Linked DNA regions of Homo sapiens. The protein of the gene in region 5 purifies or fractionates together with the protein of the main gene of each other region. This does not show direct contact. Each region holds a gene or a part of one and is shown on either strand. Other genes may lie near its edges. The genes, in order: RNASEH1, PDHX, PDK2, PDK3, FOXD4 and DMKN.

Evidence for each region.
Region 1: the proteins of FOXD4 (region 5) and RNASEH1 purify together in Homo sapiens (affinity purification with mass spectrometry; one large-scale study listed by BioGRID and IntAct). This does not show direct contact.
Region 2: the proteins of FOXD4 (region 5) and PDHX purify together in Homo sapiens (affinity purification with mass spectrometry; 2 studies listed by BioGRID and IntAct, with this or other methods). This does not show direct contact.
Region 3: the proteins of FOXD4 (region 5) and PDK2 purify together in Homo sapiens (affinity purification with mass spectrometry; 2 studies listed by BioGRID and IntAct, with this or other methods). This does not show direct contact.
Region 4: the proteins of FOXD4 (region 5) and PDK3 purify together in Homo sapiens (affinity purification with mass spectrometry; 2 studies listed by BioGRID and IntAct, with this or other methods). This does not show direct contact.
Region 6: the proteins of FOXD4 (region 5) and DMKN purify together in Homo sapiens (affinity purification with mass spectrometry; one large-scale study listed by BioGRID and IntAct). This does not show direct contact.

The regions. Positions count from the first base shown.
Region 1 is NC_000002.12:3,541,334-3,544,833, reverse strand, and holds the end of RNASEH1 (ribonuclease H1 isoform 1 precursor), read left to right. Parts: 3' UTR 1-3,404; downstream 3,405-3,500. UniProt on the Homo sapiens protein: Endonuclease that specifically degrades the RNA of RNA-DNA hybrids.
Region 2 is NC_000011.10:34,993,118-34,996,617, reverse strand, and holds the end of PDHX (pyruvate dehydrogenase protein X component, mitochondrial isoform 1 precursor), read right to left. Parts: intron 1,705-3,500; coding exon 1,446-1,704; 3' UTR 490-1,445; downstream 1-489.
Region 3 is NC_000017.11:50,094,086-50,098,150, reverse strand, and holds the start of PDK2 (pyruvate dehydrogenase kinase, isozyme 2 isoform 1 precursor), read right to left. Parts: upstream 2,801-4,065; 5' UTR 2,716-2,800; coding exon 2,598-2,715; intron 2,457-2,597; exon of another isoform or gene 2,341-2,456; intron 2,020-2,340; exon of another isoform or gene 1,865-2,019; intron 729-1,864; coding exon 587-728; intron 254-586; exon of another isoform or gene 1-253. UniProt on the Homo sapiens protein: Kinase that plays a key role in the regulation of glucose and fatty acid metabolism and homeostasis via phosphorylation of the pyruvate dehydrogenase subunits PDHA1 and PDHA2.
Region 4 is NC_000023.11:24,524,286-24,527,785, reverse strand, and holds part of PDK3 (pyruvate dehydrogenase kinase, isozyme 3 isoform 2 precursor), read right to left. Parts: intron 1,589-3,500; coding exon 1,512-1,588; intron 213-1,511; coding exon 111-212; intron 1-110. UniProt on the Homo sapiens protein: Inhibits pyruvate dehydrogenase activity by phosphorylation of the E1 subunit PDHA1, and thereby regulates glucose metabolism and aerobic respiration. Can also phosphorylate PDHA2.
Region 5 is NC_000009.12:115,731-119,616, reverse strand, and holds FOXD4 (forkhead box protein D4), read left to right. Parts: upstream 1-1,199; 5' UTR 1,200-1,497; coding exon 1,498-2,817; 3' UTR 2,818-3,386; downstream 3,387-3,886.
Region 6 is NC_000019.10:35,503,650-35,507,149, forward strand, and holds part of DMKN (dermokine isoform 2 precursor), read right to left. Parts: intron 2,537-3,500; coding exon of another isoform or gene 2,477-2,536; intron 2,338-2,476; coding exon 2,290-2,337; intron 2,117-2,289; coding exon 2,069-2,116; intron 1-2,068. UniProt on the Homo sapiens protein: May act as a soluble regulator of keratinocyte differentiation.

The DNA.
Region 1 (3,500 bases), on a different chromosome or scaffold from region 5:
CACTGCACTCCATCCTGGGCAACAGAGTGAGACTCTGTCTCAAAAAAAAAAAAAAGTAGTAAAAGTTTGACATGATTATTTATTTAGTTTTAAACCTTTTTATTATAAAAACATACAGGAAGTGACACAAAACAAATGTATAGCTTATTGAATGATTATGATTGTAAGGTGAATAACCTTTGTGTCCACCACCTGGTGAAGAAATAGTACTTTGCCAGATACCCCAGGAGGCTCTCCCAAGTGCCCCTCCAGCCACAGCCCTCTTCTTCTCCCCCTCCTTGCCCCAACAAGTAATCCTGACTTTTACAGAAATGACTTTCTTGGTTTTTTGATGGCAGTTTAGTCTTGTCTGCTTTTTTTTGTTTATTTTTTTATCTACTTCAGTGTCCATTTGCAGTCCCGTCGGCCTCACTGTTTTCCCTGCCGTTTATCTGTTGAAGAGCCTGGGCTGTTTGTCCCATGGCTTCCCACAGTGTAGATTTTGCTGACCACGTGGTCATGGTGTAGTTCAGCATGGTCCTCTATGTTTCCTGCACATTGGCAGCTGGGTCCAGAGGCTTGATGAGCCTCAAATTTGATCCCTTTGGCAGGAGAACAGGCGGTTAGGAGCTTTCCTCAGGAAAGTACCATGTTGACGGCAGCTGATGCTCAGTGCCAAGATCCATTAATTATTTGGGGTTGCAAAATGGTGGTATTCTCATTCTGTCGTTTTGCTTGCCTTTATTAGCTGGAATGGTTTTCTAAGAAAGTGTTTTCTTTTTTATACTTATCTGGTTACCCAGTGGTACAGTTCATATAGGAAGGGCAGGATAAATGCTTGATTCTTTGCTCTTGTACACTAAGTTTTTAAGATAATGCATTAGTTGTCTGTCAAGGAAGGTGAGTGGTGAAGGGTTTTTACATATATACAAGAATTCATGGGCTGGGCATGGTGTCTTATGCCTGTAATCCCAGCACTTTGGGAGGCTGAGGCTGGAGGATCACATGAACCCAGGAGTTTGAGACTAGTCTGGGCAACATAGTGACACCCTGTCTCTACAGAAAATTAAAATAAAATCAGGTGGGTGTGGTAGTGCCTGCCTGTTGTCCCAGCTATTCTGGAGGCTGAGATGGGAGGATCGCTTGGGCCCAGGAGGTCGAGGATGCGTGAGCTGTGACCATGCCACCACATTCCAGCCTGGGCGACAGCAAGTCCTTGTCTTAAAAAAAAAAAAGAATTTGTGGAGTTAAGCATACTTGGTGGGTTTCAATCCGTTGTGATTTTTATCTTTATTTAGCTCAGACTAGCTTATTCGGTCAGTGAGAGGGAGCCTCTTCAGCTTGGCTCTTGCTTTCTTTTGATAAGTGTGCACATGTGTGCATACATGTGTGCACAGACCACACGCACAGTCATTGATAGCTCCCTGCAGCCTGGCATGTCAAGATGCTCTAGGCCCAATTTATAGAGCTTCTGCTCCAAACCTGTCTTAAAAGAAAAACTTTAGACAAGTTAGCAGTTTAATTGAGCAGAAAATAGTTTCTTCAGCTGGGTAGCACTCAGGACCAAAAGTGGTTCAGAACGTTCTCCTGTGCGTTGTGTGCAGGCTGTATTTATTTATAGCCACAGGAAGGGAAAGACACATGTACATGGCCAGACTGACTGCAGGTCAGCCTCCACCTCACATAGGCATGTTTTGGGAGCCTTCAGCATGTGATTGGTGAGACTCTGCTGCTTGTTACAGAAGTGTACTCTCAAGTCAGGTCCCAGTTTGCTTATACATTAAGTGAGGTTATAAGTCACTATGTACAGAGGCAGTTTTAGGCCAAACTTAATTCCGTTTAACACTTGGAATCCATTATTTTTCCCAGAGTCTCTGGTAGAGATGGTATTTCAGATCCAGTTTAGGATGCTCATTGCTATTGCGTTGGTCATTATTTCTAGATTTTTGGACGGAGCTTTAAAAAAATACAAACATTGCACACACATATTTAAAGGAAGAATATTTTCTGAGCCTATATTGATATTCCCAATACAAATTCAGGGTCCTGGGGCCTTTACATAGCCTCCTCTATATGATGTCTGTGTCTCCTGCACTCGGAATCCTGCTTCTCAAGACACAGGACAATGGCATGGAATATCCATCCCTTAATCACTCACTTGTTTTATTCCTCTTTAGCATTTAGCATTTAAAAAAAATACTAATACCATAGCATTAATTGTGATGATGAAAACAGCACTGTGTCTACGTTGTCAGAAAAATTGCTCCTTTTTACCACCATTGACTCATTTCTGTGTGTTCAGGTCTCATAACCAGTCTATAGTCAGTGTCATCTTGGGGACAGTATTCCTTGAGTTTCTGATGTTGAATTCAGTTTTGCTGGATACGAAATTCTTGGCCCAGATTTTCTTTGAGTATCTTGTTTTATTCTGTTTTCTTCCAGCATAAAGTGATGCATGAAAAGCCTGATGAATCTTGTTTTCTTCCCCTGACAGTCATATGCTGTTTTTCCTTAGATGCCCAAAGGATTTTTTCCTTTTTCTGTCAAGTCGGCCGTTTTATTCGAATGTGTCATGTGTTGGTATTGGTTGTCCTGGTCCATATTTGCAAGCGTATGGTGTGCTCTTTCTATGTGTACTTCATATCTGTTATTTTAAGAAGATTTGCTTGAACTGGAGTTTAGTGTTACATTTTTCTTGCTTTGGCTTTTTTCTGTGGGGATCCCTGTTATCTGTATGTTGAAATCTAAATTGGCTGTTCTCAGTGTTTGCCACTGTCTCTTGAATCTCTTTTATCTCTTTCTTTGTTTCTTTTTGAGTTTTAAAAGTTGTTATTGTACCACTTTTGTTTTGTTTTGTTATTTAAAATAGGAACAGTGTCTCACTGTGTTGCCCAGGCTGGTCTTAAACTCCTGGCCTCAAGCGATCCTCCTTCCTTGGCCTCCCAAAGTGCTGGGATTACAGGTGTGAGCCACCAAAGCCGGCCCCACCTTGCTTTTTAAAACAGCTCTGTTGAGGTGTAACTGACAGGTAATGAACTGCACATACGTGAAGTGACCGATGCATTTGCCTGTGAAGCTGTCGCCAGAACATGTCCATCACCACCAACAGCAGTTTCACACCCCGGTCTAAACCGTCCCTCGTGTCCTCCATGTTCAGGCAACCACTGGTCTGCTCCCTCTCACTAAAGGTTAATTTATATATTCTAGAATTTTATCTGAGTGGAATCGCAGAGCAAGTACTGTGGGGGGAGGTGCTTCTACTCAGCATAATTATTTTGGCATTCACCCATTTTGTGTACATCAATAATCCACATTTTGTATTGCATGGATATACCACAGTTTATTTATTTACCTGTTGACCGATATTTCGATTATTTCCAATTTCTAAATAAAAATAAAGCAAATAAAGCTGCCGTGAACATTTATATCCTCGTCTTTGTCTTCTGTTTCTCTTGGGTAAATGCCTTGGAATGGAATGCTTGGTCATATGGCAGGTGTGTGCTCTTTTTTTCTTTTTTTTT
Region 2 (3,500 bases), on a different chromosome or scaffold from region 5:
TTTTTAAATGGCTTGTTAAACTGAGTTGGATAGTTGGATTAAGCATTTTCTTAACAATTAATACACCAGGGTGCTAATTATTTTAGAAGGCTCTTCTGTTAGGGTTTATAATTCATCATGTCATACCATACAACTTGTACTATATTAGCCTTTCTTCTATTGATTCATGTCAGCTGACACTAACATAAACCTTTTTGTGACAAGTTAATTAAATTACCATTCATTACCATCCAACTTAAATATAGTTATCTTGACAGTTATAGCAGAGCTGCCAAAAGAGAGAAACAAACTCTTCTAAACTTTATAATAATTAGTGAAAATTTCATATTAGTGAAATAAAAAGGATAGTTCTCATCTGTTTGGCTTCATAAGTCTTCTATTCTCTTTCCAAAGTTTTACATTTCCTATCAGTTACTTTCCTAATGTCATACTAATTTTAAATTCCGTCTTTTCTCCTGTAGAGCCCTTTTAAAGGTGTTCTAGAAAAACTACTAATCAACTTCAAGGTTTATTGAACTTTTGTGTTTTAACATTTAAAATACAATAGAAATGTTTATATTTTCTCACATTTTACTGCACAATACAAAACTGATTTAAATGCATTAAGAAACAACATTTTGTTTTTAAATAAACACTAACAAAATGTTTGGCAAGAGATAACACAATTTATTTAAATATATTCCGACTCAAGATGAAGGCAAGCGGTTTACCTAGAAAGGTTTACATATTTTAGCTATAGTTTTTCATTGAACCATTTTTTTGAAATGTCATTCTTTTCATTCATGCTTCTTTTATCCTCTTGCTTTAGAAGTTCACAGTGTTATATAAGTGAAAAACAAGACAGATAGAAACCACCCTAAACATATGGCTTTATGTACATAAAAAATTCAATAATGTTGCCATAACCCCTAATACAGTGTGATCCTTATTTATTTATTATCCAGAATAAACTTCTGTACCTATTAAATTCTTCAAGTATATCTAGAGCAGTGCTTGTAAAAGTGAGGTCCCACTGCTAAGTTAATGGCCATCTCTTTGAAGATCACTTCTACCTTCAACATAATTATGGTACAGTTCTAATAGTTTTTTTAATTTTACATGTATCATACATTCTCAAATATTCCAAAATGCTCAAATGAGCCAAACATATACTTTGATTTACATCTAGTTTAATATTCCCTTTATACAGCACCAGAGGTTAAAAATGGATCTGAGTAACCAAATATTCTCTTTCCTTTATTAGTTAGAGTTTATCATCATTTATTTCTATAACATTAAACCCAAATTGAAGATGAAGACACCCTGGGTCAAATGCTTTCACCTTAAATAAATAAACATTTCATCCACTTCATACTTAAATACCAAGTTGTTTTCCTATAACATATGTTTCTTGGTAACAACTACTGAATCAACTAAGCTGAACACCAACTTCTTATCTTTGAGGACTAGGCAAGTCGGATAGGATTCTCTAGGTTTGCTTTAAAACTTTTAAGAAACCTGGTTGCCAGTTCGTCATCAACCACTCGACTGTCACTTGACATTGTGACTGTTATGAGCTGGCGCTGCTGCAGTTTGGCATTTCCCTCTTCATCCTCAGTGAGCTTCAGCACAGGTCGGAACCTCCCAACCGCCAAAATGCAGGCCTGAGGAGGGTTAATCACTGCAGTAAATTCGTCGATGCCAAACATCCCCAAGTTGGAAATACTAGGGGGAAAAGAAAAAGCTCTGAAGGAGGCATGTCCTTAATCAAAGTCCCCTTTCCGTGAAGCACATATTTTATATATTTTACTAGGCAGTGTAGTAAGGCAAGAAAAAAATATATGAGTAATGAAAAAAGGAAACATTTAGTATTTACAAATAAATTAATTGTGTACACAGGAAAAATGAGACTATAGATAACTAGTAAAATTAATAAGTAAATTTAGTTAAGTCATCAGATAAAAGGTCAATATAACAATCCATTTTATATCGAGTCATGTCCCACATAACGAAGGATCACATATACAACGGTGGTCTTATAAGATTATAATGGAGCTCAGGAATTTCTGCTGCCTAGTGGCATCATAGCTGTCATAACATCATATTGCAATTACTTTATTTTAAAAATAAATTTAGTGTAGCCTAAGTGTGCAGTGTTTATAAAGTCTACAGTAGTGTATAGTGATGTCCTAAGCATTCACTCATTCACTGATTCTTCCAGAGCAACTTCTAGTCTTGCAAGCTCCATTCACGGTAAGTGCCCTAAACAGGTGTACCATGTTTTACTTTTTACATTTTTACTGTACATTTTAAAAATGCTTAGATATGTTTAGATACCCAAATACTCATCATTGTGTCACAACTGCTTACGGTATTCAGTAGAGTAACATGCTGTATAGGTTTGCAGTCTAGGAGCAACTGGCTATATCATACAGCTAAGGTGTGTAGCAGCATGTACCATTTAGGTTTGTGTAAGTACACTCTATGATGTTTGCATGATTTGCGTAAGTACACTCTATGATGTTTGCATGATGAAACTGCCTAACAATGCATTTCTCATATCCCCATCATAAAGTGGCACATGACTCTACATACAAGTTGCTATAATTAGAAAATAAAAATTTAAAACAATACCATTTATAATAGTATCAAAAAACAAATACCAAAGAATAAATCTAATGAAACATATACAAGACCTCTACACAGAAAATTATAAAACATAACTGAAAGAAATCAAATAACTGAATACACAATGGTTTCTACCATATTCACAGGTTAGAATACTCAATACTGTAAGGATGTCAATTCTCAAATCATCAAAAGACTTAATGCAATCCCAATCAAGAAACCAGCAAGGGGTGTGTGTGTGAAAAATGGCAAATCAATTTTACAATTTATTTGGAAATACGAAAAGCCAGAAGACAATCTTGAGGGTGAACAAAATTGGAAGACTTCATTACCAGCTATCAAGAGTTATAGCTTGGTGGTAGTAAACAAAGGATAGACAAACAGGCCAGTGGAAAAAAAATAGCACAGAACTAGACCAACACATATATAATCACCTTTTCAATGCTATGAAAAAGGAGAAATCAATATTCAATACATGATGCTGTGTAAATTTAGTATCCATATGGGGAAAAAAGAGCACTTGAAACTTCACATTATATACAAAATCCAATTTCAGTTGAATTGTGATCTACATGTGAAAAGTAACGTAAATGCTTTTAGAAGATAACACAGAAGAGTAACTTCATGACTCTGAGATAGGCAAAAATTCCTAACAGAAAATGAACAGTACCAACTACAAAGAAAAATACTGATAAATAGGAATTCATTAAAACTCAGAACTTCCGTTCATTTAAAAAAATCACCGAGAGAGTCCCAAAGGCAAGTCACAGAGTGTGAAAGCTATTTGAAACAATATATATCCTATAAAGGTCTGTATATCCAGAAATAAGAACTATACATCATTTTTTTAAATGGACACCAGATTGCAGTGGGTACTTTATCTCATGAATTAC
Region 3 (4,065 bases), on a different chromosome or scaffold from region 5:
CTTGAGTTCTTGAGTGAACTCTGCTGAGCCTTTCCCTCTGTTCCTGCTGCAGTGCGCAATAAACGTTTGGTCTTTGCCCCTCCAAAGCTCTTCGGGAAGGTACTGTGCCATCCTTGTGTGTATCTGAGTATTTTCCAACATCCAAAACAGTCTGTCTTGCAGCTTGGGTTATATAATGTATTTGAAAACTTACTTCTTGTTTCTGCTTCCCAAAAAGTTACCCCCAAATAAATACTGCCTAACAGTTACTGGAGTTCCAGGTCTGGGCTGCTGGCTAATGCTGACATCAGCCTGAATTGGGGTTTTGGCTGTGAAAACCATGCTTTCCTAGGTGGATCCTGTGTTTCCAGAGAAAGGTGGGTGGTAAGAAGAGGGCTAGACACAGAGACTAGGAGCTTGACCTCAGTCCTGCTCTGGCCTCAGATTCCCACGTGACCCTAGGCAACTCCAAGCGCTTGGGGCTTTGGTGTCTCCTGTCTGTCCCCACCCCACCCTCAAAGCTGCTAAAAGCTTGGAGATGCCATCCCTGAGCCCAGGGACACTGGCGATGGAGTGGGAGGTGCAGGGACTGAGCCAGGGGTCTCACCAGCTCTGCACCAGCTGCACGGAGGGTGTGCTCAGCACTCGGTCGGGAAGCAGGTTGATCTCTTTCATGATGTTGGCCAGGCGCACAGGCAGCTCCTGCCTGAGGAAGGTGAAGGAGGTTTTCTCACAGGCATTGCTGGATCCTGGCAGGAGAAAGAGGGGTGAGCCACAGAGCCACAGACTATGAAAGCCAAAGGATGTCTCGGCCAGGTCAGCTAAACCCTTCATTAACAGGGGGCTCAGAGAGCAAGTGACCTGCCCGGGGCACACAGCAAGGCTCCCCATCCCCTGCAGGGCTCAAACACCTACACCCCATGCCTAACACTTCAGGAGGTGTCATCCTCTCCTCATCCCCAGCTGAACCCTGCTTGCCTTTAACCACAGTGGACAGGGCCACTCCTGGGCCCATTTGGAGCTGCCTCTGGCCTCAGTCACCTCACTTCTCTTTCCTTCCCTCCCAGCACACTCACTTTGAGGGGCTGATTCCAGGGGACAAAGGAGCCTGGGAAACCCATCCCTACCTAGGACTGGGCTCTGGCTGAGGGGGGCTATGGCTAGACCACCACTGCAGGCTCCCAGTGTTGTCTCTGGCCAGCCCACCTCACCCAGCCTGGCCTGAATGCCCATGTGGGGCTGCTGTGTCTTAATGCCCATCCATGGGGCAAACGGGCCTGAGAACAGGAGTCCAAATGCCTCGGTCCTTGTCTGGTGTCAAGATGGAAAGGGTGGGGGACCGAATATGGCCTTGGCCCAGGGTCAGGGGCCCTGGGTTCCAGTCCATCAGGCTCTGCTTCCAACTCTGTCACCCAGGCCATGCCATCATCCTTTTGAAGGTCTCAGTTTCCCCCATAGTACTACAAGTTGACCAAACTCTACTGTGAGCCCCTCACAGCTGTGATGTTTCTGTAATTAGGGTGCAGTTTGTGGGGACAGCTGCTGGGGGCTAGGGGTGGGCCCAGGAGGCTTTCCTACATGGGGGAGGCTCAAGACTCAGGCAGGGCAGGGGTGCAGGCAGACAAGTCCTGAGGAACAGGTGCCTTATGTCTCGGCTGCCACCTCTCTGTTCCCGTCCCATCATTGACGCAGCTGCAACCCAAGCTAGGCACTATCAACTCAACTCTTGAGAGACTGCCCCCCACCCCCAGTCCCCAGCTGGCACCATGGAAATACCACATAGACAGACAGGGCCCACACAATGCCCATTTCAGCTGCCACGTTGGCACAGCCTCCCTCCTGCCCCAGGGCCACCCCCAGGTTGCTGGTAGTGGGCGATCCTGACCTAGCAGCCCTGGGGCAGCCAAGGGAGGTATAGGCGGCTTGACTCCACATCACGGTGCCTGGGGCCCCTGCCCAGCTGGGGAGAGGCTGCCAGGCCGGAACAGATTTGATCTTCAAGTGTCCTTGCCCACTGGGGCAGCTAGGGTCCAGCTCCTTCTGTGGGTGGATGTCTACCAGTCAGGGCACTGTCTCCCAATGGCATCTTCTGAAAGAGCCCCCTTCCCCAACTGCCCCTGGCTTAATCTCACCCTCTGCCCAGGGGTGTCTGACCCTTCATGCCCAGTCCAGGTCTCTCTACAGATGGCTGCACCTCTAAACCCTGCCTCCTCACTCCCACCAGCAGACCCCCGGTTTCCTCTGGTGGGAGGAGGGGCCCCTACTCCTCCAGTCATGAGGACAACTCCCATTAACCCTTTCGCGTCTGGATACCACCCTACTCCCTTCCTGCAGTAACATCACAGCTTCACTGCCCCTTACTCTTCAAGACCCTTCATGAGGCCCACGAAGAAACCTCGGGACCGTCCTTGTAAATGCCCCCCATTCCCATCAGCAGCCCCGTCGAGAGGCCCCGGCCGGTTCCTGCTTCCCCATTAACTCTTTCCTGCCTGTACCTTTCCAAACAACCCTTCTCTGTCACTCGGGGCCTTTCTTCTCCTCCGTCCCCCTAGCCCCCGGCTGCCCCTCCCAGCGCCCCGCCGGCCTCCGCTGCCAGCCGCCTCCCGCCCACTCCGTACCGAAGTCCAGAAACTGCTTCATGGACAGCGGGGACGGGGAGAACTTGCTGAAGTGCTCTATGTACTTGGGCGCCCCTGCCAGGGACGCATTCTTCAGCAGCGCCCACACCCAGCGCATGGCTGCGGCGGCCGCGACTTTGGTTGTGGTCCCCGCGCGGGCAGCGCTCGCGCACCTTTCGGCCCAGCGACGCGGTTCGGCCGCCTCCTCCCTACCCTTGCCCTGGCGGGCATTCCAACGCCCAGCCAATCGGCTCGTCATGGCGCCTCGACGTCGCCAATGGCCACTCACAAACAACTCCGGGCGAACCAATAGCCTTCCGCCCCGGCACGTGGCTTCCCCCGGGCCCGCCCCCTTAACCCACGCTTTGCCGGGGCGGCCTGTTGTTTTGGGGAGGCCGCGCCGAGTTCCCACCTCCCCTGTGTTCACTCCTCCCTTTCCTCCGCGGGGCGAAGCCCGGGTTAACCCCTTCCTTCCCAGAGCCCCGCCAGCCCTTTCGCTTCCTCTTCCACGCCTGCCTTTCCCTTGCTACCCCCTCGCATCTCCTTCACCTGCAGGCTCCTTTTAACCCTTCCTTTCCAGAGTTGTCTAGGTAGCTTTCAACCAATCCCTTTTCTCCAACTCAAAGGTACCTGTTTCACCTGTCATGATCGTTACCTATCCTCCCTTAACGGGTCTTGGGGATTCCCAGTCCGGATGACAGTGACCCAGACTGCGAATATTTGCAAAATTCGGAACCAGGGTGCAAGCCTATACGAATCCGTCCTGTATATATGCAGCCCACCCGCTTCCACAAAGATCCAAGCGGCTCAGGAAAAGGCGGAGTTTGCTTTTCCAACTGAAAAACATCCAGAGTAAAAACCATCACTACTAGTGGCGGTGGAGGCAGCAGCTATCGTCCATGCCAGTTAACACTTTCATTTTATTATACAGCTCATCTGACCGAACATAAAGCCTTGGACATCTAGCGCGACCACCTGAGAAAGCCACCTCCTTCGCACCGGGCTTCCTTAGAGCAAGATCCCAGGAGGTGAAGTGTCTCTGGGAGGCCCGGAGCCCGTCCTTCATCAGCGGCCCAGCTTCTCTTGGAGAAAATGTGACGCGCCCTCTTGTGGCCGAATGTGGTATCTCCCATCGTGGGTTTAGGGCCCGACCCGCCACTTTGATGCTTTCTTTGCTCGGTGACATTAGCCTAATACGTGTTAGGCTTTATGCTGGGAACAGGGAACACAGACAGGATCAAGAAATGGCCTTTTTCCTCGATGATTTCATTTCTAAGTTTCAGAGATAGCTACATAAGTAAATAATTAGCTATAACTGAATGTGATTGTAATACAGACCTCACAGAGCAAAGCTTCACATATGGAAGGGCCTCTTAGCTGGATGAATAATAAGCTATATGCCAGGCACTGTTTACAGGCATTATCTCATTTAATTCTCTATTTTATTATTCTTAGCCTCATTTCATAG
Region 4 (3,500 bases), on a different chromosome or scaffold from region 5:
CAAACAGGACACTCAATAAATGTCAATTTCCTTCCCTCTGATTTTTCAATGTCTAGATACTATTAAATCACAACTGATAATTAAAGTATACATGCACATAAAACAGTTACCTTAATGGATAAGTCTTCTTTACCCAAAGTAACGAGGGTTTTAACAGCAGGGTAGCCCTCTTTTCTGTCTTCATAGAGTTCAACTGTCGCTCTCATTGAGTTCTAAAATAATAAGATCTTTTTATTAATCATACTGCCGAATCACAAACCACAATTTTTAAAGAGAAAGAAGCGCAAGATGACTTATACCCAACAACCCTTTTTTGGGGCAAATATTAGTTGGATTTTTATGGCATTTTTCCCTCTAAAGAGCTTAGCTAAACGTGCTCAAATCAAGGAAAAATTTCCTGACACTTTGTTTTTCACCTAGTTTTAGCCTCATCCAACATGCTAAATATTTATTTTTCTTTCCTTCTTCTTCTTCCTCTTTTTTTTTTTTTTTCGCTTTACGGTATTTAAATTATTCAACTCAACCCAGAGGAATGTTTTTATCGCATGTAATGAGGCTATGCAGAGGCTGATTTGTGCACTTTAAATCCTATTTATCAGTCTGCATTTATAGAGCACCTTTTCTCTAAAGAAGGCAGAAAAACTGAAAGGATGCATGCTTCCCACAAAAATTAATCATTTGGCTGAAAAAAGTAGAAGAAATATTGGTTAAAAAGAAATTCTGAAAAAGCCACAGCTGCTGAAGAGAAAGTTCACAATTGAATGCCCATTTCAACCTTAAAGCGTTACATCAGTAACATTCTAATTTTTGGAAGCAAATCAGCATAACTGATTTTTCAGGTGTTCAATTTAGTGTTTCACGCATTGGAAGAAATGAAATTTTAGCTCAAATGCCTTGTGCCTGTAATACTGCTACTGTAAATGTCATTAGCTACTGATTAACAAAAGCAACAGCTTAAGTTGCAGACTCTAAAGAATTTGGTGGGGGGGAGGGGTGGTTCTTTTGGTCCAGCTCATCTACATCTTTCTCCTCTGCCTCTCTTGGATCTTCTGAATTGATTCAAATATTTTATAAAAGAGTTGCAGGATCTCTCAGGACTGGAACAACCACTAATGTACCAGTGTGGTTAATTTTCAGAAGCATAAATATGTATAAACATGTTTTTATTTTGATCTGGCTATCACCAGTAAAGCCTTTGCCAGGTTTGGAAACTAAAAAGCATCTCTAATCTCATAACTAAAGAAAAAACAGTATGGATTTTACATAAAATCACTAAAGTGCAATTAAGCTTCAAAATCAATATGTACTAATATTCACAAAAACTATAGTGTACACAGCAATTTCTCATCTCACAGTGTACAAATTATAAAACCCACAGGATATCAGAAATAGAATTTTTAAAATGGTTATGCAAAACCTTTTTCTTATGCTAATCTAATGAATCCATTATGCCCTGAATCAAAGTAATTTAAAATGAAGACTTCTTTCCACGTTTTTAAAATTCCACTTACCTTGAACAACTCAAATAGCATATGAAACAGATGTGAGGGCACATAAACCACCTGAATAGGTTTGTCTGGCGCTTTGGCTGAAAACAGAGACAAAACCATCAATCAATAAGGACCCAAAGTAGGAGAAATTCAAGAATGATGTTTGCATTCTATTTTCCAAGTGTGTAAAACAGAGCTCTATAAAAGGCTAATTTGAGTTTCCACCTCTAAAGGCAGGGCTGAGCAAAAGCATATGCTTTAGAATCAAACAAACCTGGGGTGACACCCAGTTCCTTCACTTACCAGCTATGTGACCTTGGATAAATCACTCAATCTCTTTGAAACTTTGTTGAGCAGAATTGGAATATTATCACCTATGCCATAACATCCTGAGTATTACAGAAGGCCAGTCAGATATCACTTGGTGTTTTTCAAATTGGGGGCTACCTTCTGCCACTGACCCCAGGGGGAATTCCACGGGAGAATGTGGAGCAACAGGAAAAAAAAGGGCTGGTGAACTGGACTAAATGGCAGTGTTCAGTTTTGTTAAATTATGACAAACAAGGCATCTTATAGCATAGAATGTAAGGTTCACATAACTTTTTCTCAAGCAGCTAGCACATAAACCCCTAGAGACCTATGATCTTTTCCCCTTGCACCATGGGTCATCTGAAGACAATCTGAGAAACACCAAAACCCAGGTGAAGCAATAAGAACAGTGTGCGGTACAGAGCAGATGCTCAAAAATACAGTCCTTCCTCCTCCTCATGACCCAAAATCACTTAAGAGATTGAAACTACATGAACTCTCTCAGGTAGAATGCTGTAATTTCAACCAGCTACTTCCTCTAATAAAGTAATTAACAGTAATACAAATTAGAGTTCACATTTGCTTGATTCTTAGCAGTCTACACAGAGCTTTCACATACATTATTCAATTGACTCCTCCTGACAACACTTCCTGGCTCCTAGAGGGGTGGTGGTGTTTAGAGGTCTGGAAACAGGCTTTGGGAAGCCTGTGTGACTTGCCCGTGGTCCCAGAAGTGGCACCGAAACCAGACACCTGAACAAAGAGCTTTTGAGTCTAAATCCCGAACTCTTCAAAGAGCAATTATTTTTATTTTTATTTATTTATTTTTTGAGACAGAGTCTCACTCTGTTGCCCAGGCTGGAGTGCAGTGGCGCCATCTCGGCTCACTGCAACCTCCACCTCCCGGGTTCAAGCGATTCTCCTGCCTCGGCCTCCTGAGTGTCTGGGATTACAGGTGTGCGCCGCCACTCCTGGCTAATTTTTGTATTTTTAGTAGAGACGGGGTTTTGCCATGTTGGACAGGCTGGTCTCGAACTCCCGACCTCAGGTGTTTGCCCACCTCGGCCTCCCAAAGTGCTGGGATTGCAGGCGTGAGCCACCGTGCCTGGCCTGAGCAGTTGTTTTTAAAATCACTTAGTAATATATGTAAACGGCTTAAAAATTTAACAAAAGAAGAAAAACAAAAGTCCTTCCCCCTTTCCTATCTTATCCTTCAGTCTGAACCCAGAGGCAGCCACTCTTTACTACTTCTGCTGTAGTCTTTGGGTTGGTAATATTTACATTCTGTTCTGTAACCCAAATTAGGGATGCTGTAAATTGCCTATAGGTTCTTTCAAGAAAGTAGAAAATCAAGTGTTGGTGACATTATAACTATGTAAATATTGATCACTGTAGAACAACCACAACAGTGTACCTAGACATTTTCTTCCCTATTAATGCAATAACAATGATTCATGTGTCCCTTGGAGGAGAATGTTCCCAGCCTTAACATGAAATGGAGTTTCTTTATACTCCTCCAACTGGTCAACATCATGCTACCCTTTTTGGGTTGCTTCATAGTTGGTCCATGCCATTTCGCTAAGATCTTCCAGCTTACTGGAAGCTTCCATACCTACTTCCAGTTTCCATACCTACTTCCAGCTTCCATACCTACTTCCAGCTTCCATACCTACTGCATGGTATCCAGTCCATTCTTCAAGA
Region 5 (3,886 bases):
AAAATACAAAAAATTAGCCGGGTGCGGTGGCGGGCGCCTGTGGTCCCAGCTACTTGGGAGGCTGAGGCAGGAGAATGGCGTGAACCCGGGAGGCGGAGCTTGCAGGGAGCCGAGATCCCGCCACTGCACTCCAGCCTGGGCGACAGAGCGAGACTCCGCCTCAAAAAAAAAAAAAAAAAAAGGAAAAAAAGAATGAAGAGCCAGAGCCAGGCATAGTGGCACGCCTGTAGTCCCACCTACTCAGGAGGCTGAGGCGGGAGGATCACTTGAGCCCAGGAATTCAAAGCCAGCCTGCGCAACATAGACCCTGTCTCTAAAAATGAATTGGTTATAAAGGATGAAGAAAGGAAGGAGGAAAGGGAGAGAGAGAAGCCCTTATAGAGTGGGTGCATTTCTTGTATGTGGGGCCACTTTGTAAGAACAGGATTTTTCAAACTGGGCCCATACTGGTATGTGTGAAATCAATTTAGTTGGTTATGGCCATTTTTTTTTAAAAGGAAATATCAGTGATCACTATAGTGTAAGTATATTGTTTCGTGAAAGCCATCTTAGTTATGTATTATGTCTGTATGTGTAAGATTGTGATATAAAATGTATTTCTGTGGTTAAATATTCAAAGAAATTGGAGAACCATTGCTACAAGGGGACAGAGGACTCCGTGTGAGCTCTCCTGCCTTCCCTGAATAAACTTACACAATTTAGTGCTGGGACATTTGAACCTTTTCTGAAAATTTGAGTCAGGGAGAGCATCTTGGGGAGGTGGGAAGGAAGGTAGAAGGAGCAAAGCAACACCCCCCTGAAGCCTGGGAATATTGTCAGAACCTTAAATATAATTCAGCTCACCATTCTGGGTAAGGACAGACTCTACCAATGAAAATGGGTGATTACCAGCTGTGAAACACAAAAACATACTTTCACGGTTACACATTCCTTTACAAACAACCGTGTACATTTCAGCCTCCTACCCCACCATTTCTTTTCTCCAGGCGGGAAGGCTGCATGTCGAGGTGGTCGTAGAATGTTGAGTATCCTACTTTCCTACCTCGCTTTTATTTGCGCGGGTTTAAATGCGCCTTAACAGAACCCGTGCAAAGGCTTGCCTACTGTCTGGCTGCACCGGATGAGTAGAGCATCTTCCTTGGTGGCAGGTGGGTGCGAGGAGGAGGGCGCTGGGCTTTTCTCCGGACGGTGTTTGCCCAGAAGACCATCATCCCTGGACTACGTTAGGAGGAAGTGGCACCGCTCCGAGGTAGGGGAAGAAGGGTTATAAAGGGAGGCGTCCACCACACATGGTCTTGAAGAAGCTTTTATAAAAGGCGAAGGCATCTTTGCCGGACGTTGTTGCAAAGGCGTAGAAACAAGCAGAGGAAAACATCCCAAAGGGTAACCACTAGCGTTCCTGCTTCTTGCAACATTCATCCCGGGCTTCCAGCTCAGCCCGCCGGGGCCAGGTGATCCGGCCGCCACATCCCCTGCGACTGAAGCACCTGCTCCGCCATGAACTTGCCAAGAGCTGAGCGCCTTCGCTCCACACCGCAGCGCAGCCTCCGGGACTCCGATGGGGAAGACGGTAAAATCGATGTCCTGGGAGAGGAGGAAGATGAAGACGAGGAGGAGGCGGCGAGCCAGCAGTTCCTAGAGCAGTCGCTCCAGCCGGGGCTGCAGGTGGCCCGGTGGGGCGGGGTTGCGCTTCCCCGAGAGCACATCGAGGGCGGCGGCGGCCCGAGCGACCCCTCAGAGTTTGGCACCGAGTTCAGGGCACCGCCAAGGTCTGCGGCGGCCTCTGAAGATGCCCGGCAGCCGGCAAAGCCCCCCTCCTCGTACATCGCGCTCATCACCATGGCCATCCTGCAAAGCCCGCACAAGCGCCTCACGCTCAGCGGCATCTGCGCCTTCATTAGTGACCGCTTCCCCTACTACCGCCGCAAGTTCCCCGCCTGGCAGAACAGCATCCGCCACAACCTCTCGCTGAACGACTGCTTCGTCAAGATCCCCCGCGAGCCGGGCCGCCCAGGCAAGGGCAACTACTGGAGCCTGGACCCCGCCTCCCAGGACATGTTCGACAATGGCAGCTTTCTCCGGCGTAGGAAGCGTTTCCAGCGCCACCAACCGACCCCGGGAGCCCACCTGCCCCACCCCTTCCCTCTACCTGCTGCACACGCCGCCCTGCACAACCCCCGCCCAGGCCCTCTGCTTGGGGCCCCTGCCCCGCCGCAGCCAGTCCCGGGGGCCTACCCCAACACCGGCCCCGGGAGACGCCCTTACGCTCTGCTGCACCCGCATCCTCCTCGCTACCTACTGCTCTCGGCCCCCGCCTATGCCGGGGCACCGAAGAAAGCAGAAGGCGCGGACCTGGCGACCCCGGCACCCTTCCCGTGCTGCAGCCCTCACTTGGTCCTCAGCCTTGGGAGGAGGGCAAGGGTCTGGCGTCGCCACCGGGAGGCGGATGCATCTCTTTCAGCATTGAGAGTATCATGCAAGGGGTCAGGGGAGCGGGTACAGGGGCTGCGCAGAGTTTGTCCCCGACCGCGTGGAGCTACTGCCCCCTGCTCCAGCGACCGTCAAGCCTGTCGGACAATTTTGCAGCAACAGCAGCGGCATCAGGAGGAGGACTGCGCCAACGGCTGCGCTCCCACCAAGGGCGCGGTGCTGGGCGGGCACCTGTCGGCCGCGTCGGCGCTGCTGCGGTATCAGGCGGTGGCAGAGGGCTCTGGGCTGACATCGCTGGCCGCCCCTTTGGGCGGAGAGGGGACCTCACCAGTTTTTTTAGTATCGCCCACGCCCAGTTCCCTGGCCGAGTCCGCAGGGCCCTCCTAGAGCCAGGTGGGAGTGGGGAGCGACCCGCAGCTGCTCACTCCACCTTGCGCGGCCCATACTGGGCGTGTGCATCTGAATCCCGCTGGAGAGCAAACACGAACTTCTGTTCCCTGCAAAATGGTTAGAAAGAAACAGCTGGATTACGTTCCTCTAAAAACCACCTGAACGTAACCTTCGCAGGGCGTCAAGTCATCTTTTCTTGCCTTCGGTTGTGGCTTCTGTGGCTTTCCCGATTTGCACATGTCCTGGGGTACTATGAACGTGAGTGGGGTATTTTGTTCTGGCATTAAAAGAAAAACAAGCAAGCAAACAAAAACACAGCCTCCGATGCCAAACATGTTCCCCCTTCTTCACTTCCTTGGAACTGGAAGTATTATTCCTAAGTCTAGTGCAAAATGCTTCTACTCTCTGTGTCTTCCTGATAGGGATGTTTAATGTAAGTAGGATATTAATTTCAGAACATTGATTTCTTATCTGTGTGTCTGACGTGCCATCTTTAATGTTAAAATTAAGGTGTTAAAATTAAGCCTAGTTATATAGACGAAATAAAATGCTAAGTCACTACACTACATCGTTTATTTTCTATTACGTCTCATTCTTCCCTTTCTAAATGGAACTTTTTAAAACCTACATTATTTTCCCTCAATTTATTTTCACAATTCATATTTATTATAGATAGCAGAAGTAATCCATTTTAATATGGCCTTTAAAAATTCCAAATATTTGAGGTTGAAAATGTCCTGGCTTTTAAAATAGGAAATTTACTATTTATGAGACTTCTAAAAGAATGAATAGGAGGGCATGTAAATATATTCTCCATTTATTTTTCCTCACCCCCCAACAAGCTGGAAAACCATTTGAGATCAATTTGGAATGTAGTGGCCAACATGTACTCAGGGAAAATAAAAGGCTATAAATATACATATATATATATATATATATATATATATATATATATATATATATATATATATATACACATTTTTTAAGCACTAGAATTTTCAAAACTTATTTCCTAAAAAAAAAACTCTGAAAAGACTTTGCAACTAGAAAGGTTTAAGTGTTACTC
Region 6 (3,500 bases), on a different chromosome or scaffold from region 5:
ATTTTTAGTAGAGATGGGGTTTCACCACATTGGCCAGGCTGGTTTCAGACTCCTGACCTCAAGTGATCTGCCAGCCTCGGCCTCCCAAAGTGCTAGGATTACAGGCATGAGCCACCGCGCCTGGCCAGAAATAGGTTCTAAGAGAGAGCTTGAGAAATAGGAATTCCAGGGCATTGTGAGCCAGCACAAGGGTATAAGAGACCCCTGCTCCAGAAACCTACAGGGACCTTTTTGCCCACCACTGCTATCCAAACAAACCCAGATATCCTGGCTTGGGCTTAAGAACCCCCTGCATCGTCAGGAACATTACACTGCGTTCCCCTCTGCTCCCTCCTCACTCTGGCTGAAGTCCTCAGCTCCCTCACCCCACTGTGAAGAATGGGGCTCCATTCTCTCCCCTGCCCACCTCTGCCCTGCCCTGCTTTCTAGGAGATCTGCCCCTTGAGGAGCTGGCCCAGATGGATCCTGCCTCACTGCGATCACTCCCTCGACTGCCGCCCTAGATGGGCAAAACTGGCAGGGTGTCTATCCTGGCTCTCTGGGAAGTGTCTGTATGTGCCCCGGCTCTCCCATCAGACCCTAAGTTCCCTGTGACCCAGGAAAGAGTCTTGCTCCTACCAGAAACCGTTCTCTGTGAAACAGAGAGGCCAGATGCAGTGACTCATGCCTGTAATCCCAACATTTTGGGAAGCCAAGGTGGGCAGATCACTGGAGGTCAGGAGTTCGAGACCAGCCTGGCCAACATAGTGAAAGCCCATCTCTACTAAAAATACAAACATTACCCGGGTGTGGTGGCGGGCACCTGTAAACTCAGCTACTGGAGCGGCTGAGGCAGGAGAATCATTTTGAACCCAGGAGGCAGAGGCTGCATTGAGCTGAGATCGAACCACTACACTCCAACCTGGGTGACAGAGCGAGACTCCGTCTCACCAAAAAAAAAAAAAACAAAAGAAAGAAAGAAAGAAAAAGAAAAAAGAAAAGAAACAGAGAACATGAATCCACTGTAGCTGGGTGGGAACATCTGTACTCTCCTGTCTCCTCAATCTCCTTCCTAAAAGGTCAGACTTAGATTTTCCTGAGCCCAGTCTTCTCTCTTTTACATTAAAGGCCAGAAACTCCACTGCTCACAGGGGCCAGTCAGGTGGCTAAAATGACTGTGACAGGTAGGGACAGTCTGGCCACTAGGGAGTGACCCCCCCACCCATTCCCAACACCCCCCACCTGGGCCAAGCAGCAGCTGTTTCTCAGCTCTAGCCTAACCCCACCCCATGGAAATGGAACCCAGTGTTACCAAAGTTTTTGAAAGAAACCAGAAATCCAAATCATTATGTGAAGTCTCTCCATGTTTAAACTTTGACAATTAATTCATATTCTTAAAAAAAAAAAAAAATAGAGTGTCTCAAAAACCCATCCTCCAATCACGAATCGCAGCTTCTGCCGGGGGTGTGTCTGCATGGGTTGTCCACCTGTCCTTCCTCCCCTCCCTTCCACTCCAGCCCCCTCTACTCTAGAGGTGCCTGTGCTACTCAGGTATCAAAGCAGCCTGGCCAGGGGTTCCCCTGCAAGACGGAAGGGTAGGCAGGGAGGAAGGAGGGAGGGGTTCTGCGCCCCAGCTGTGTTTTTGTTTGTGCGGGAGAGACTAATGCCTGTCACCCCTGAGGCTCTCGGCCAGTGCTGGTTCCTTTCTCTGGGTGCCCTTCCTCTTGGGGCCTCTTAGCTCCACCTCACTCCTCATTCCATGTGCCCTCTAGGAGTCAATCTACTCTCCCCTTAACCTTCCCCATCTCAAAGGGGAAAGTGAGGTTCAGGACCTGCTCGGGTCTATATGCTGAAACAGCAAAGAAGCCCGTCCCCTCTGCTCAACCTCAATCTCAGCTGCTCCAGATTCTCCCCCTCTTTTCAGGTCTCCTCTGTCCTCCCTCCTCCACCCCCAGTGTGTTTAGTTTTTGTTTTTAGCACTGGCCTAAATGCTTCCTCAGTGGCCAGCATCACTGTTTCCCCAGCTCACAGAGCGGAGGTTTAGCTTTCTTCCCTATAGCCCTCTCCGACGAAGATGTCCAGCCCTTACCTTGTTTATGGCATCCCAGTTGATGAAACCCAGCTTGGATTTAAAATTCTATGGAGGAAACAAAAAGAAGAATGGCCAAATTGAGTCATAAGGTAATTGGCCGAGAGAGGTCAAGGGCCACTGCTGACTGTTGGTTTAGAAAGAGGACCCCAGACTGTGGGGCCAAGGGCAGGGGTTGGTTTTCCAAATGCGAGTGAACAGAGCCATCTCGCAGAACTCACCTTCCAGAAAGTGTCAAAGTTAAACATCCCAGGAGACGTCTCAGAGTTCTATGGAACCAAGGAGATATGGGATGAGAGAAGAACCCACTTTGTGAGCCAGAGTCGGGAGATCTGAGTGGCAGGAGGGGAGGCGAGGATTGTGTGACACCATGGTCCCAGCCCAAGGTGGAGTGTTGCCTCCACTCACCACAGTATTGACTCCACCAACAGCGTCACCTCCTCCACTGCCCCAGCTCGACCCTTGCCCCTGGGTGGGGAAAAGGGGGACCGATGTCCAAGGCTTATGCTTCCTATCATGCCTGCCACCTGTCAACCTGCCCCGGATTGCTTCATCCCCACCTCGGTCCAGGCTTCCTGTCCTCCTCTCTATAAAGCTGCCTTCTCTTCCTTACACAGCACCAAAAAGTTCACTTGGGAAAGCTTTCTTAGAATGGATTGCTCCCATGGAACCCCACCCAGTCCCCTGAATCTCAATATTCAGACTCTTGCCTCCATCCTGGTCTGTCCCCAAAACACCTCAAGCAAATGAGATTAGCTAACGTGTAGTCCCACGGCACGCCAAGCACCATGCCTTATGCAGCATCTGTCTCCAGAGTCTGGACTCCACAACACCTTGGTCTGGTGGTGACATGGAAAGCTGTACAGTAACTGAAGGCTGCGTGAGTCAGGTTTCACTGTCCTCATTTTACTGGAGGAAGCTCAGGCTCGGAGAGGTTAGCTGACTTGCCTGAAGATATACAGATGACATGATAGAGCTGGTGGTGATTTTAATATATATCTTAAATTTTTTTGAGGCTGGGCATCGTGGGTCACGCCTGTAATCCCAGCACTTTGAGAGGCCGAGGTGGGTGGATCACCTGAGGTCAGGAGTTTGAAAACAGCCTGGCCAACATAGTGAAACCCCATCTCTACTAAAAATACAAAATTAGTCAGGCATGGTGGCACATGCCTGTAATCCCAGCTACTTGGGAGGCTGAGGCATGTAATCCTAGCTACCTGGGATTACAGGTGTGAGCCACTGCACATGGCCTATTATTTTCTTTTTAAAAAGTAGAGACAGGGTCTTCCTACGTTGCTCAGGCTGGTCTCAAACTTCTGGGCTCAAATGATCCCCACACCTCAGCCTCCCAAAGTGCTGGGATTACAGTTATGCTGGTGCCTGGCCAGAGCTGGCTTTCGAAACCTCATCTTCTACCTCAAAGCTCAGTGAC